Linked DNA regions of Homo sapiens: region 2 is linked to region 1. Evidence: fine-mapped expression QTL. Tissue or cell type: whole blood. Region 1 holds a variant in brackets; the other region holds the start of a gene. All regions are shown on one strand. Distances are from middle to middle.

Region 1 (2,685 bases):
TGTAATCCCAGCACTTTGGGAGGCTGAGGTGGGCGGATCACCTGAGGTCAGGAGTTTGAGAACAGCCTGACCAACATGGAGAAACCTGTCTCTACTAAAAATACAAAATTAGCCTGGCGTAGTGGCACATGCCTGTAATCCCAGCTACTCGGGAGCTGAGGCAGGAGAATCGCTTGAACCCAGGAGGCAGAAGTTGCGGTGAGCCAAGATCGTGCCATTGCACTCCAGCCTGGGCAACAAGTTGTGCCTATAATCTCAGCTACTTGGGAGGCTGAGGCATGAGAATCACTTGAACCCAGGAGGCAGAGGTTGCAGTGAGCCAAGATCGTGCCACTGCACTCCAGCCTGGGGGATAGAGCAAGACTCTGTCTTTAAAAAAAAAAAAAAAAAAAAACAAAACACCTGTTTATCCAAAGTACTGTCTAGAAGTCATTTTGGGGAAACGATGCCTGCAGTGTAGCCTGACTCTCTCACAACACACTCTATCCTACCCTTTCCTGTCTACCCCTCAGGGCTTCCATTTCCCTCCTCCTCTCATCTGCAGCCCCGACTCTTGACAGCCCTACCTTCCTGGACCATCCAGCACCTCCCTTCCATCAACCCCCCACCCAAGACTCTGACATCCCTGACGACTCCCTGTGAAACATCACCAGCTAAATAAATACACACGGAATGAATGAACTCTGGGCCCTCAAAACATCCACCTCTGCCCCACAGCGCCCCAAGCCCCCGTCCTTATGTAACTCGTCTCTAAGTAACAGCTCCAGGAAGTGTCCCTGGACCTCCCGTACACATCTTTCCGGGCCTCCGCCCACCCACCCTTCCACCTTACTTTCCCACCCTCACCAAAGGCCTCGTATGTGCCAGGCATTGCACTAGGTAGTGTGGAAACAGAATATAAAGAACAGCTCTGGCCTTCAAGGAACTCAGATTCCCATAAGCCAGAACCAGTCTTCTTATTCCTGCTATTGCTCCCAGAAACATGTCACAAGCATCCTCCTTTGTCCACATCAGAACACCTGGAAACACAGGGTCAGCCAGAGTGGGAGGCATGGTCAGCACACCAACTGTGAGTTAGCAGGGGTTTAATAACAAAAGCCATCTCCAGTGACAGAAATGAAATCACTGGCAGCCTGGGGCAGGGGCATGGGGAACTGACTGCAAAGTGGCATGAGAGAACTTTCTGGACTGACGGAAATGTACATCTTAATTGGGGTGGTGGTTACAGAGACGTATATGTTTGTCAAAACTTATCGAACTGGCCGGGCGCAATGGTTCATACCTGTAATCCCAGCACTTTGGGAGGCCACGGCGGGCAGATCACTAGAGGTCAGGAGTTCGAGACCAGCCTTGCCAATATGGTGAAATCCCCATCTCTACTAAAAATGCAAAAATTAGCTGGGCATGGTGGCGCTTGCCTGTAATCCCACCTACTTGGGAGGCTGAGGTACGAGAATCACTTGAAACCAGGAGG[C/T]GAGGAGGCTGCAGTGAGCCGAGATTGCGCCACTACACTCCAGCTTGGGCGGCAGAGTGAGACTCAGTCTCAAAAAAAAAAATGTATCAAACTATATGCTTAATAGAGTTAATTTAAAAAGAGATAGACTCAAGTCCCCCACACTGCCCCTCACTAATGCATCAACTGGGCCTAAGTCGCCATCTTTCTGAAACTGTTTCTCTAACACATGGTTTGTGGGCTAGTTCAATGATTTTCAAGCCACTTATTTAAACAAAATCTTACTCTAAACCAGGTAAAAGGGAGCTCCCTGGCTGAAGAGGATGCGGAGAATCAGGTGCTGTCCTTCTGACCCCCTTCCCCTCCTCACAGTAACCCTGGCGGCACTGCATAAACCTATCTGAAACCATTGGGATCCATTGTCTCTAAGGTCCCAAATAGCAATGACCGTCTTTGATTCTATGTCTCTGCTAAAGATTTGCTTCAGACTAAATATATCCCCTTTTCCTCCACACCAGATGGTTCTATATTCCTCCCCATGTGGAAAGAGTAGGTTTTCATGCTCCCATGGAAGAGGGAAGCAGAGACAAGAAAGAAGGCCATGTCTCTCCTCTCCATTCTCCTCTTCCTAGGTCATGTCACAAAGCACATACGGCGGGTGTTTAAGAAGGGGCTACAATATAAGACCTCTCATTAATGGCCAATTTTGGTTACATCAAAGTACTTATTAAAGCCTGGATCACTGGGTCATTAGATGTCCATTAAATCCCCATGGCTCTTCATCAGAGAGGCAGAAGGCCCTGGCCCAAGGCCTCTAACCTGAGCAGAAAGACTTAGTGGGTCTGTATGCCCAGGGCAGTAGCTCACGGGGGTGGGGTGACATTTTTAGTGTTTGTCCTGTCCTCTGACCAGCTCTCCCTGCTTCTCCTCCCCAGAGTGGACTAAGGACTAACTAAAGGAAAAAAGATGTGGCCAAGGTTCTGGTGGAGTAGGTTGTTGGGGAGAAAGGACAGCATAGGATTAGAGGCCCAGAGGTTCTGGGACAATCACTATATAACATGGGCCACATGTGTAATTTTATATTTTCTAGTTAGCCACATTAAAAAGGTTAAAAGAAACAGGTAGAATTCATTTTAATGATACATTTTATTAACCCAACATATTCAAAATCTCATTTCAACATGTCATCAGTGTAAAAAATTATCGAGATATTTTTATATTCCTTTTTTCTT
Region 2 (2,685 bases), 79 kb after region 1:
AGAGACGGGCTTTCATCATGTTCGCCAGGCTGGTCTCGAACTCCTGATCTCAGGTGATCCGCTCCCCTCGGCTTCCCAAAGTGCTGGGATTACAGGCGTAAGCCACCATGCCCGGCCCCGTATGATATTTTAAATAACACACTCAACCACGCTCATCTGGGCTCAGGAAGAAGCCGAGTCACAAAGTTATTAGTTTCCCAAGATTCTTGGAATCTCTTATTCGGTACAAATGGAACCAAAAGACGCCAAACCGAAGTATTTTACTGAGTTACACTGAGGCAACGTAAATAAACTCAATCTATTGAATTACACCAAAAACAAAATTGTAATCAATTAAGACAACTTAGGTCTCAAGGCTAAGGCAACACCACCTCGAAATTCTCTCCTGAAAACGCTAAATCTCGGTGTGGCTGTTTAGGAAAGAACATCCTGTGGAAATAAAGTCATGATGTCCTGGACTACAGATCCCTCTCCCATCTGCTCCTTAGCTGTTCTACTAGGAAGAAGAAAATCTATTGCGTAGAGTTGTCATTATCGGCTAAACTCAGTGCTAGCTTTAAATGGATTGTCTTATTCAATCTTGACACTTGGAAATAGGCATCCTCACGTCCCTTTGCAGATGAAGAAACTGAAGTCGAGAGAGGTTTAAAAACTGGCCCAAGGACTCAACACTGTTTCTAATTGACACTCAAATCCTTGCTCGGACCTGAACGCACAAAGTGCCTCGGAGAAGATGTGAAGCGCTGTGTGCAACAGTGAGGAATTCGCTAACCAGCCCTGGACTTCCGTTTCCTCGCCATCAAGAGGTGTCTCGGCGCCAAAGCGATCAGCGCTGCCACCCCCAGCTGGACGTCTGCAGCCAGCGCAGCGGGAGGAGCCCCCTCGGGCACCGGCAGGACCGAGCGGGGGGTTTGGCTGGAGTCCAGCGCCCAGGCCCGACCCCCGCGCCTCAGCCCCCGCAGGCGCGACGATGAGAAACGCCGTGGGAGAAAGAAACAAAGCCCGAACCGTGCGCCTCCGTGACCCAAGGCAAAGGCGGCAGGACTACCAGCCCAAGGCCGCGTTTCCCAGGAAACTGGACCAAACTCAGCTCACCTCCGGCCGGATTCGCGGGCTGGCACCTCCCCTTCACTCTGTGCCTCAGTCGCCATCTTCGTCAGCAAACTTCTTTCACCGCCCCACCTTACGTCCCGCCCCCACATATTTGGATTGGCTAATATGTTTTCACCTCTTCCGTGCGATTGGATGACTCGACCGCCCCTCCTCAACCTGAACCGTTTAATATATTATTGGTCTATTCAAATGACTAACCGTCATTGGTCGTTCCCAGCCCTGGCGGAAAAAGAGGGAGGGGCGGGGAAGAAGACCCAGCCCCGAGGCCTGCCGGGAGTTGTAGTTTCTCATTTTGATGAACCCTTCCGATTCCACAGACCTTTAGGTTCAAGTCAGAAATCACCAGCCTATGCTCAAATTTTGTCCTGATATGTAAATCAGGGAATTATAGAACTGTCAACTTTGAAAGTGACTCATCACTTTCTAAAATGCAAGACTCCGTACCCTATATCTCAGCATCACACAATATACCCAGATAACAAACCAACTCATGTACCCCCTAAATTTAAAATAAAAGTTGAAAATAAATAATTTTTTTTTACAATTTTTTTAATTTTTTTTTTCTGTTGAGACAGGGTTTCACCATGTTGCCCAGGCTGGTCTCGAACCCCTGAGCTCAAGCAATCCTCCTATGTCAGCCTCCCAAAGTGCTGGGATTACAGGCATGAGGCACTGCACCCAGCCATAAATTAATTCATTTAATTTAATGTAATTTAATGCAAGACTCGTTCTCTGTCTTGACCCAGAGATAAATCCCTCAAGTGCAGGCAGGGAGTGGCAACCTAGAAGTACTTGCTTTTAAACGTATAGTTCAAAGCCTTCTTTCTTCAGATACTCAGCATAGCCCTAGCCATAGGTCATTTCTTTCTTCCTTTATTTCTTTCTTTTTTTTTTTTTTTTGAGATAAGGTCTCCCTCTGTCTCCCATGCTGGAGCACAGTACAATATTGCAGCATACCAACACACAGGGCAAATTTTTGTACTTTTTGTAGAGATGGGGTTTCACCCTGTTGGCCAGGCTGGAGTCGGTCATTTCTGCTTCAATACATTCACTCCCTTCCAACTTCCCAGAGAACCCACAGAGTTTGCCTTGTGATATGAACCATGGAACCAAAAGCTGCATGACTTTGTCCCAAACTAAACTTTAATCCTCAATGGTAGGAATAACCATAATTATCCTTGTCCTCCCTGCGGCACACACTTCTCCTAGGGATTAACTGAGGCAACATATGTGAGAACATTGTAAATTTTGAGCATTGTTGTTTTTTGTTTTTCCATATTGTTTTCCTATGCTGGACTTTTCTCGGGAATTTCTGTATTGATCCTTCTGATATCCTGCCACCTGGGGCTCTCCCTGCACTCTGCCTCCTTTTTACTAAACTGTACTGCACATGCTTCACTTTCTGAACTGTCTTAGGGCTTTTGCACATGTTGCTTTTTCTGGCTCGTCCATTTTTCCACTTTTTTGGCTTTCAGGTCGAAGCTTAAATGTCACTGGCTCAAAGATCTTCCATGACCCCCATTGTATAAATCAATTCCCTCAGTAAACTTTCACAAAGAACTCTGTACTATT

What was found. PIP is the estimated chance that this variant, and not a neighbour inherited with it, causes the effect.
Region 2: it holds the start of ARHGAP19, and the variant in region 1 is fine-mapped to the expression of ARHGAP19 in whole blood (TOPMed, PIP above 0.99).

The regions. Positions count from the first base shown.
Region 1 is chr10:97,212,870-97,215,554 of GRCh38, forward strand. All of the region lies in intron 11 of ARHGAP19-SLIT1 (ARHGAP19-SLIT1 readthrough (NMD candidate)), which reads right to left. Among named protein-coding and RNA genes, the nearest start is that of SLIT1, 28 kb to the left of the region's middle. The variant C/T (reference allele first, on the strand shown) is at 1,475.
Region 2 is chr10:97,291,477-97,294,161 of GRCh38, forward strand. ARHGAP19 (Rho GTPase activating protein 19) reads right to left here and starts at 1,161. Exons shown (of 12, transcript NM_032900.6): 1 at 1,096-1,161. The coding sequence starts at 1,151. It overlaps ARHGAP19-SLIT1 (ARHGAP19-SLIT1 readthrough (NMD candidate)), which reads right to left and starts at 1,197. Exons shown (of 15, transcript NR_037909.1): 1 at 1,096-1,197. RefSeq lists enhancers at 1-731, 732-1,488 and a silencer at 833-882.